Linked DNA regions of Homo sapiens. The protein of the gene in region 1 interacts with the protein of each later gene in a biochemical or structural test. Each region holds a gene or a part of one and is shown on either strand. Other genes may lie near its edges.

The links.
Region 2: of the proteins of MAP2K1 (region 1) and KAT7, one has a biochemical effect on the other in vitro, tested with the Homo sapiens proteins (one study listed by BioGRID).
Region 3: the proteins of MAP2K1 (region 1) and GRB10 form a complex in vitro, tested with the Homo sapiens proteins (one study listed by BioGRID).

The regions. Positions count from the first base shown.
Region 1 is NC_000015.10:66,487,912-66,491,511, reverse strand, and holds part of MAP2K1 (dual specificity mitogen-activated protein kinase kinase 1), read right to left. Parts: intron 2,298-3,600; coding exon 2,236-2,297; intron 1,795-2,235; coding exon 1,749-1,794; exon of another isoform or gene 1,011-1,748; coding exon 897-1,010; 3' UTR 1-896. UniProt on the Homo sapiens protein: Dual specificity protein kinase which acts as an essential component of the MAP kinase signal transduction pathway.
Region 2 is NC_000017.11:49,826,681-49,830,280, reverse strand, and holds part of KAT7 (histone acetyltransferase KAT7), read right to left. Parts: intron 3,589-3,600; coding exon 3,482-3,588; intron 2,881-3,481; coding exon 2,779-2,880; 3' UTR 1-2,778. UniProt on the Homo sapiens protein: Catalytic subunit of histone acetyltransferase HBO1 complexes, which specifically mediate acetylation of histone H3 at 'Lys-14' (H3K14ac), thereby regulating various processes, such as gene transcription, protein ubiquitination, immune regulation, stem cell pluripotent and self-renewal maintenance and embryonic development.
Region 3 is NC_000007.14:50,671,115-50,675,059, reverse strand, and holds part of GRB10 (growth factor receptor-bound protein 10), read left to right. Parts: intron 1-401; coding exon 402-624; intron 625-3,945.

The DNA.
Region 1 (3,600 bases):
TATTTATTAGAATAAGAGATTAGATTTGTTAAACATCTAGGTTAAAATGGTTAAAAGGATTTTCATACAATTTTAGGCACTATACACGTTGTTTACAACAGCATTGGTACTTGGATATGGGGAAAGATAAATCCGACATTTTAATATCTTGATCAATTTGTGACATTCAAAATAATTCCATTTAAGAAACATTAATCAAAACTTAAAGAGACATACCACTAAGTATCCCACACAGTATACTGAAAATAAATATAGAAATACAACCAGAAGTCTACAGATCACCACAGTAGACAGACTGGTGAAGCCCCAGCTATCATGGCAGTGAAGGGCTCTGGCTAGATTTGGATGTCAACTGCTGAGTTCTACATGAAAAGCAAATAATAATAATAAAATAACATGATGTACACTCTCTGATGCTCATTTTCATAGCAGCAAAGCATGCTTCACATGCACTGCCTGTGAAGGATCTCACAAGGCTCCCTCCTAGAGAGAAAGTATGCCCAGCAAGAATAAAGTACCACCAAATGTCAAAGAATCCCGAAAATACAGGCAGACAGCCAGTCATGGAGCAGGAACAGCAGTGCAATTGTAAGAATGACTACCCACATTCACCAAAATTTCACTGTAATTCAGCCTGGCACAGGTTTTGATCATCAGCATACACACAAATAGCCCCAAGCACAAAGCCAATCCACTTAGGGGAACAATAATAGTAATAAGAATAAAGACAGTAATATTAAAAATGACAAGAGTAGAATCTTGGCACATGCTGTGTTCTTCATCCTTTGTCACAGGTGAAATGCACATCTGAACAGAGACAGGCATGGGAAGGAGGCCCAAAAGCGACATGGCAAACCACCGGGCAGGGGACTCGCTCTTTGTTGCTTCCCAAACACTTAGACGCCAGCAGCATGGGTTGGTGTGCTGGGCTGGTTAAGGCCGATGGTGGAGCAGAGCCAACCTGCAAAATCCACTTCCTCAGCATCAGATCTCTTGATAAAAGCATGAACCTGCATGTAAGGAAACGAGAGGACGTGGTGTTAAAAAGAAACAAAAAAACAAAACCCACCAGGAAGGAAAATCCAAGAGTTTCAGGTCTAGAGCTTGTGCTGCACTTGGAAAGAGCACCTGGCACCTGCCCCTGAGCAACAGTGGGGCCAGCTGCAGGCCCAAAGACCTGCTCCACCAGTCACAGCAGCTGTGAGGCCTTGGGCAAGTCACCTCTTGGAGCCTACTCGTGCAGTATGGAGACAGTAACTCTGCCTTAAATGCCTCACAGGCTTGTTAGAAGGGACAAAGAAAATGATGGACTTAGTGCATATTATATACTATATACACCGTCTATGGCTGTCCAGATATTTACAGTATTACTTAGCTATTTCCACTGCCACCAAACGAGACAGCAGGCGGAGAGTGACTCTGGAAGGAGGCTGAATGTAAGATGAGGCAGTCAGTATTAGGGAAAGGCCGCATCCCCATGAAGGGGGTGGGCTGGCCTTTTCTTTCCCATGGCCCCCTCAGGCATTTCCTCTGGCATATGCTTACTCAGGCTGCGGGGGTCACCCCAGCTTTCCCTTAAACTGATGGGAGAGCAAAGGAGACTGGTGTTTGGTATTCTGCAGCCCCAGGCTCAGCTGGACCACAGTGGGCAGGGAATGAATGGGCTCTGGAAGTACTGCACAGATGACTGACAGAGAAGAACAAATGAATAAACAGGTACTGTAAGAATCCGGAATAAATAGACTCACCATGAGTTGCTTCAAATCTGCTCTCTCTGCGGGGTTTTTTATTAAGCTTAAAGGAAGAAAGACAAGGTAAGAGCTGTTGCCTGGCACTGGTTCTAGCTCAAATAACATGTTTGCATGCCTGTCTTCTCTGCACACTAGAGGCCGAGGATTGCCTGGGCTTGATTCATCCTCCTGTTCTAAGCACAGTATCATGCCCACAGTAAGTTAATACATTCTTGCTGAGTTAAACTAAGGTCAAAAAGCAACGTGCCAATCCCTGGAGAGCAAGTACCAAAAGGAGCAGCTACTACATCCATGATGTAGTTAGACATGCCACATAAGTCTTGGCACTCTAAAAAAGGGCTTATGGCAGCAGCCAAGAATCATCAGACGGGAGGGTAAAGGGCAAAACTCTGCCTGCAGAAGCAATGCTGGTGCTTCCAGAAATGGGGTGGGGAGCCTGACAAATCCAGAGTATACGCTTCCAGAGAACAAGGAGCCAACTTACCATTTATTCACAAAATCTTGAAATTCCAGACTGAACACTCCACTGGGCAGTTTTGGAGGAGGCTGCAAACACATGTTGAGATAAGAAAAATGCCTGGCTCCTTGCTCCAGCCATCTCCTCTCCCCATCCCACCCCTCCCACCAGCCAGTGCTACTTTTTTTTAAAGTCTTCTCTGCAGTCCAAAGGCAGTACTACTCTCATCCAGTCAAGGAAAGGCACAGGTAGAAGGCCAGTGCTGCCTGTTGGGTAACCATGTTGGAACCACTGATCTCAAATAGCACATTTAGAATTGGGACCAAGTCAAGTCCACTCACTTGTCGGGTGATTTTGAACTAATCACTATTCCTCTATGAGCCTCAGTTTACTCTTCTATGACATGAAGAGGTTGGGCCTAATGATCTCAGGGACCCTTTCAAGCTCTGACACTCTACAATGGTAAATCTTGGAGTGCGGCATGGGAACGTAACCAGCAATTTACTGGCAGCAACAGCTAGGGGCACGTGCAAACCACCAGGCATAGCCCAGGTCTGACAGCACCTGCAGAAGCAAACCGGTTTTTAAAAATCCCTTTTCTGAGCCCTAGAGAAGCAGTGAAAAGTTAATAAAACATTAACTGACAGAGGGCTGGATCTGGAAGAATGTTACCTGTACATTCCAGAAATGAGGCTGTTTTCAGATTTTCCCATGGTGATCATGCAGCACTATACAGTACAAGGCTCTGGAGCACTGGGCTCATGGCGTTCCATGCAGTCCAGGAAATGTGGGCCCACTTATGTACCTGGGCTGGGAGCTGTGTGTACCCATGCTGACCCACAGACATAATGTCCATGATGTCACTGCTCTGATGTACAGCCCAAAATCTCGTTTTTAATTTGGGACTAAAAATGAGACACTGATCCCCACCACAAAGCCCAACCTAGTGCTCTTCCTTTGAGGGCCATGTCAGTCTGATCTTAGGTGAGGACTAGAACTCAGCTCTTAGAACAGTGACCCAGAGCAAGCCCCATTCTGCAGACTGTCCCCACTGCTGAGGGAATCAAGGGACCATTCAAGGAAGAGAGGAGACCAGCAGCTTGGCCTCCAGAGGCAGCATCCATTCCTTCTGAACAGGAAAGAGCTAGGCAGCAGAGGGGCTGTGTGCCAGCAGAGGCTGCAGTAGAACAACTGCCATGCAGCCAAGCCTCCTAGGAGGTAAGAATGGGAGGTGGGAGGTGGCAAGGAAGAAAGAGCACTGGGTGGGAAGGACCTGGGCTACTTTTCATCTCGGAGGCTCAATTTCCTCACCTGTTTGAAGAGGAACCAATTTGGCCTACCTCAGCAATGCTTGGGAGAATTGCATGGGAAATTAATGTGAAAATTTGGAAG
Region 2 (3,600 bases), on another chromosome or scaffold:
CAGACATTGCAGTGAGCTGAGATCATGCCACTGCATTCCGGACTGGATGATAGAGTGAGACTGTCTTTTTTTAAAAAAAAAAAAAAAAAAAAAAAAAAAAATAGGTCGGGTGCAGTGGCTCACGCCTGTAATCCCAGCACTTTGGGAGGCCAAGGTGGGCGGATCACCTGAGGTCAGGAGTTCGAGATCAGCCTGACCAACATGACGAAACCCTGTCTCTACTAAAAATACAAAAATTAGCTGGGCATGGTGACAGGCACCTGTAATCCCAGCTATTCGGAAGGCTGAGACAGAAGAATCACTTGAACCCGGGAGGCAGAGGTTGTGAGCCAAAACTGCGCCACTGCACTCCAACCTGGGCAACAGAGCCAGACTCTGACTCAAAAAAAAAAAAACGGAATGAAATGGGATAGTCTCATGCAAAGTTGCCAAGGCAAGTGAAACTCTGTTTCCACACCTGTGGGGGTTTAAATGAGATAATAAATCCTTTTATTTTTAGGGAGTAAAGTGGGATGGCAAAGCGAGTGGAGACCTGGGATCAGGACTGTGCAAAAAACTTCAACTGTATGGGTTCTCACCACTACTGGTCACAGTGAGTGAAACCATTCCAGCACATACAATTCCCAGCCTCCTCCTTTCCACCATACGGAGGTTAGTGCTCAGCCACCCTTTTCCTGTGCTGGGTATATCTTACATGAAAATGCAGCTATTTTCAAAAAGAATAATTTCAACCTGCGAGAGAGTCAATAATTAGAGGTGACACTGCTCAATACTGGTGAATGAGCTTGGAGATGAGAAGGAATGTCTGTTCCCATCTCCTACAGGCATCAACTGTACCCCCATATATCCTAATTTCCTATTGGTTCCTTTGCCCCTAAAATCAGTGGAAAATGGCACTTAGTGAAAGAATGGGTAATACTGACTAATCATTGCTACGTATACTGATTAGCTGGAACCAAAGTGAGGCAGATCAAATTTGTGCCACCATCTAGAGAAGTTCAGAGTGAGCACTCCCTTGATCTTTACAGACAGCCTGTATCACAGGGAAAAACATTCCATAGCCACAAACCACATCCCTCAACAGTTTACTGCTAGGGAAAGCAAATCCCAAGTGCATTTACTATTAGTAGCAGATCGTGTGCATCATTTTCATATATAAATGAGAGCCCCCAGATGAAACAGACTTGAGCAGAGAACATGCTTTATTGAGGAGTAGATATAGAAGAGCACATTCTACCACATGTGGGGAAGGGTTTAGCTTCTGTAAAAGGCCTTTATCCCTTAAGAAAACCCCTAGTGAAGTTGCTTTTTGATAAATTTTAACAGTGACACTGAAACTGGAGGGGAGCTGCCACTGAACATGCTTAAAATTAGCTCCCCCAACCCACAGTGAATATAAGTAGTGTACAGAGATGACAAGAGAAAGGCACAAATGACCGGAGTCAGGGATTGTGGTGAGGGCTCCACATGAAGACAGCATGTTGGAGGAGACCAAGTTGGGAAGGGTGACATGTCATACATCAAAAGTTGCCCCAAGATAGCAGGTTATAATGGGCTAGAGAGAAATTAGAGGGAACATCTCTTCCTTCACTTGAACAACACCAAAAATAGAAGACCAGAGAATAGAAGGATGGTGACAAATCCCAAAAAGGAAATGGAGGAGGAGTTCGTGGAAGGGCAGAAGCACTTTAATCCTAGAGGGAGGGTGAGGCACTGTTGAAAAGAGAAGCAAACTTTGGCAGGGGTGGCCATTCTGCCTTGCTGAGTCATGGGCTGAGATACGGAAGTCACTTTCAATCATTTTCTACTTCTCCCAGGGCACTCAGACAAAATCAGTGCAAGGTATATGGAAGTACAGATGTACTGTATCAGACTAGTGGAGGTGAAAAGGTTTCTGCAGTATAATTAACCAGTTAATATGCAGCATGAAAGGGAAAAGTGGACATTACTTTGGCACCTGCAAACGTAAAAAGTGGGAGTAAAGAGAGAAGGAAATATTTACTAGTGAGTACTTTACGGTGAGGCAAAAAGTAGTATCCGTTCCCTTTCACCAAGACACTGCCCACTGCCCACTGCCCACAGGTGAACTCAAATCAAACCCAGAACCACCACCCCTTCATTCTTCTCTCCATCTCATTCAGATCAATTATATGCTATTACCATGACTAGTCCCTGGGAAACTCTTCAAAAGTATTTGGCTCTGGTTAGCCCAATACAGATCAAAAAGAGGTCTCTTAATCAAAATGAAGAAATTTAAAGCAAGATGGAACCCAAAGTGAATGGACCCCCTGCCAATCCACACACACTCACAAGTGCCACCTTTTCCCTGCCCCTCCATAGAACACACATATAAGGAGTAACTGGAAAGGTCCTGGTGGTGGCAGCCATATTTGGAGGTCTGGTGACCAGGTGGCAAGCACTAGTACCACGCTTAGAAGACACAACACAACCTCATGGGGCGAGAGGACATGAGGAGAGAACCAGTGACTGGACAGGTACAGTACCATAACAGAACTCCTTGGGTCAGTGCTGAGAGACCTGCACTCAAGTCTAATACAGATCCCATCCAGGCAACCTCACTGAGGCCGAAACAACAGTTCCTCAGAACCAGCGTCTGCAGTGTACACAAAGGTCGGAGCCAGGACAGTCCTGAGGGGGATGGCCTTCCCAAAGGATACTGTACTTGCCAATCACAAGAGCAACAGAGAAATGACAGACAGATCCCTAGGGTACGGATTCCTACTGCTGGGGTTCGCTGGCTCGGAATGACAGGTCACTTTAAGTGCCCTTGGGAGGGGTCCATTTTAAGCAGCTGGGATCCATGGTTTTATTGGAGTTGGACCTTTTGGCCTCTTTGGCTATCCACTCATCAATCAGGTCCTGAGGGAGAACAATGGGAAAAAGGATTACATACTTTCAACTCAAGTGCCTTTACATAGATTCCAAAATAACTAACCGCCAAGAAGGAATTGCCAAAGGTTTAACAACATATTAGGGTATCAAAAAAAATACTATATTTTGACTTATAAACTGCTTTCCTATCTAATCCATTCTTCCTACTTTACCCTCAGTGAGAAATGAAAATCATCGCTCACCGACCTTTATTGTATATATGAAATAATTTAAAAAATTAGATGTGAGTTTGAGTTGAGACAGCATTTGTGAAGATTCCTCTACAGATGGGCAATTTCCTCCCACCTAAGAAAAACATCAAATGACAGAAATGCTGTACAACATAAAGCTGCTTAACTGGAGCTGCTTAACTTGTGTCATCCAAATTTGAGACAGGAGCTTATCAAAACCTTCTGATAAGGATAAGGCAACACAGGCATCACTGCCAGCTACAGAAATGAGACCCAGTAAAAGGGGCGTGTAGCCCAACTCCTTTAAGGGAAGGTTCTCCAGTCTTAAGGCCCATACTTTGCTCTGCTAAGTCTTGAAGGACATCCAGCAATGAGCAAGCCCCTGATGAGAACCTTACCTGTCTCTTTAAAACTAGGTGTTTTCCCTTCCAGTATTTGAGCATCTGAAGGGCTTGCAGAGTGCTGACAATGTCCACAGGATTCACAGCCGTCTCCTGACTGATTTCTGAAACAGAAG
Region 3 (3,945 bases), on another chromosome or scaffold:
TGATCCTGGGAGACACCTGTGATTCAGTCAGCTGAGTCCAGGCCAGTGGGGTCGTGCTATGCAGCTGTGGCTGTGTGCGGCCTACCGGAGGGGGTGGGGAGGAGAGAAGGGGGTGCTGAAGGGAGCTGAGCAGATGCTCTGAATGGCTTCTCCCTGGAGACAGGTAGAAATGCAGCCCAGCTCTAATGATTGAATTGTCTCTGGAATGTCAGTCATGATGAATACATGTAATATGCATGCTTCCATACAGTCATACTTGTCTTGGTGTTTCCCCTCTACCCCTTCCATAATATTTGAAAAATAGGATTGAGGTTTGGAACCTGATCACCAAGATGTACATTTGGGTTTGATTGCTCTCCATTGTTAAAGTTTCTTTTTTGCTCTTGCCTTTTTCTGTGCAGAGGATGATGTGGACCTGGAAGCCCTGGTGAACGATATGAATGCATCCCTGGAGAGCCTGTACTCGGCCTGCAGCATGCAGTCAGACACGGTGCCCCTCCTGCAGAATGGCCAGCATGCCCGCAGCCAGCCTCGGGCTTCAGGCCCTCCTCGGTCCATCCAGCCACAGGTGTCCCCGAGGCAGAGGGTGCAGCGCTCCCAGCCTGTGCACATCCTCGCTGTCAGGTAGGTCCAGGCCTTATGGGCAGAGCCTTCTCCAAGGATGAGAGCTGTCGGCAGGGACACTGCTCTCTGTGAGTTAAATGGTGTTGGGGGGAATAGTGTTGGTCTTGCAAAGTCAAGAGGCAGATACATTGCTTTGATGGGATAACGGATACACTGAGTGTGTGCAGTGTGCCGCCCTTGGGTTGAACTTTGTAGCCAGTTCAATTCCAGTAGTACCTTTTATTGAGTGCCTGCTATGTGCAAGGCACTGTGCTAGGTAGAGGGATATGCAGGAAAACCACCAGAGGAAAAATCTCTGGAAAGATTGGAAGAACAGCCATGGAGCTGATTGCATGCCCCAAGTCCTCACTACCCAGAGTAGGGACGGGAGGCTAGCAGCTACAGCACCCCCTGGAGCTTGTCGTGCAACCCCAGACCTCCCTCAGAGTTGCATTTTGCCACATTCCTCTGCTAATTCAGGGGTAGGCACATCTCTGTGGAAACAGGGAGGCTGGAGGGAGGAACGTGCTGGGGACGTTGAGGGAGGTTCCTGGGAGGTAGGATTTCTGAACGGATGTCAAAGGGTGATAGGAGCTCAGATAGATGGAGGCAGAGGTTTTGTGAGCAGAAGAGATGATGCAGATGGGGGCCGGTGCTGAAGCACTTTGTGTGCCTTTTTCAGGAGCCACGTGAGAAAGAGTTCTGGACAGGCGTGTGAAGGGGCTGGGTTTGGGTTTTGACACCAGCATTCTGGTTGCCAGGGGTCGTGGGGGCAGTGGTAGAGGGCAGCAGGGTTGGCAGAGCATGGCCGGTTTGGAAGTGGTCTCAGGAGCCCCCGGATGGGAGATGATTGTGCGCTGCCTGAGGATGAAGAAGGAGGGGGGATTTGAGCACGTTGCTGAGGAGGAGCAGCTGCGTTTTGCCAGCACTTGAATTTTGCCAGGGCTGTGAGGAGACAGAGAGTGTGTGGAGGGTGACTTGGATTTTGTCTCGAGTGCCTGGGAGGAGGGTGTCTAGAGAATGGTCATGTCGAAGGTGAAGGTGCTGAGAGTACCTTAGACATTCTGAATGAAGATCTTTGTAGAATCAAGCTGAGAGCCAGGGGCAGCCCTCAAGGATCCGCCTGTCTGCCCTGTCGCAGTCGGGATGGCGTGGGGCTCCGTGGGACCCTGCGTGCCTCTCTGGGCCTTTGCGGAGGATGTACAGCCATCTCTGCTGGGACTGCCCCTTGCCCTCACTGGCCTCTGTCAGGATGGGGTTCTGGTGCCTTCTGTCTCAGCACCCCATCTTCCGGGGAGCTCTGTTCATTTCCTGGGCTCTTCTTGCTTCTAGAAACTTCTGAGAGTTTTCTTTGTGGTCTGACATCTTGGGTCTTCCGCAGCCCAGATAATCACCTTGCCCCAGGTGGCAGCTGTTTCTTACGGAGGGGAGAGGGTGCAGCGGCCCTGGCGCCCGTGGTCAGCTGCCTCCCCAGCTTCCCACCCCGGCTTCCCCTCCGACTTCTCACTTTTTGTCATATTCATTGATGCTGAATGATGCCTGTCCCAGGGTTTGTTCAACTTTGCTCTTTGAAGCGTGACCCCTTGTACTTAGCTCCTGAGGAGTTAAGTCTGGTGGGAGAGCTGTTTTTCTCTTGGGAGCATCTCTTGGGAGCATCACAGTAGCCTTGGGGAGTGCCTGGGAATATGGAGGTGCAGTTGCATGGCGAAGGTGCCCGAGGGTGGGCTGGAAAGCCAGAAGGCCTGCCTCCCTGCTGGAGTAGTTGCCCAGGACCCTTGAACCTCGAGTTCTGGCTGAACTCGCCCATATGTGCCCCGGGACTACCTGCGCTAAGTCCCTGGGATGGAGGGGCAGGCTTGCTCTGTGGGACAGCAAAGCCCTCTCCCTACAGGGTCACAGGTGCTGTTCCTTGGGCCCAATGTCTTCTCTCTGGTGTCCTCTCAGATAAGTAGTTTTGTTTCTTACTTTCAGGTGGATTAAAAAAAAATGTGGAGATCAATCTGGAATCACCAAAGATTATTTTGTGAAGTGAGGCCATTTGCTGAGTGCTTACTGTGTGCAGATGCTGATGAGCTCCTCCTTGTTATCAGTGCCCTCGGAGGGAGGCAGTGTGGGTTACCCTCGCTTCCCAGCTGAGGAAACCGTGGCACAGCGGGGCGGTAACTGGGCTCACCACATCAGGTGGGAAGTGGCCATGGAGCAGGCTGCTGGGTACCAGAGGTCACGGAGCATGGTCCACGCTGCAGAGGAACTTACCGGGGGCTGCCATGCAACCCGAAGGGAGCTGGGGGGCAGGCAGGGTATGGGCAGAGGAGACACTTGGGAAGGGCAAGAAGGCTTTGCACATAGGAAAGCCGATGGGTGAGCCGATTCTGTACAGAGAAGGAACCCAGGCTTTTGAGAGTGCAAGGGCCACGCATGTGTTCTAGACAAACACAAGTGAGCCAAGGCACAGAGAAGAAGGACCTCGCCCCTCAGCTCTGCAGTTCCTGCCACCATCCCTGACATCCCTAAATCTCAGCACCCCTCTCCATAGTCACTGTCCCTTCTATTGTGAGCCTCTTTGGTGGGGATTTTTTGTCTTTGTGTGATATCCCTTAGTCTTGCCTTAGGCGATGTCTCTGAGCCGCTTTAAAGTCAACACAGGACTTTTTAAAATGCTCAAAACAACCCAATAAATAGAGAAGCTTTTGTGGACACTAAAACGTCAGATTATCTTTTTGGGGTGAAGTCACTGGCTAGAAGCCGTGGATGGGAAAGTGGCACTGGCCACCCGTTTTATCCATCTCCTCCTGTATGACAATGGCCAGACGTTTCAGTTGGACGCCTTGCCAAGGCTGAAGCTGTTATGGGAAGAGTGGGATTTGTTCACAGTAAAAATAAACTTTATGGCATGTCATCAAACCATTATAGGAACGGCTTTCCTGTATTTCGCAGCACTGATTCCCTTCATGCCATGTGAGTTCTCGTAATTTTAAATCCATGCATCATTTGCTGGTCTACGTGGGATAGTTAGCTGGATCTTCCTTTAAAAAATAGGGAAAGTTGGTAAAAGAGAAAAAGTAATACAGTCACAAAATGTGTTTCTGTAGTGGCAAATCTCCTGGGAAAGCTAACGGATTGTTGATTTTGTGAAATCGTAAAAATTGTCAAAAAAATTACTTGAGGACACAGCCTATGATGGGGGTTTCTGAGGTATGTTTAAACATGGGGAGGGATTGGAAATGCCGAGTGAAGATAATGTGAGGTTTGCTCCCCTCTCCTTGAAGGTAGGAGGCTGCAGACAGGGCCGCGTGGCCTCAGGAAGGGTGGAGGAGGCTGTGTGTCCAGGAGTGCCCTGGA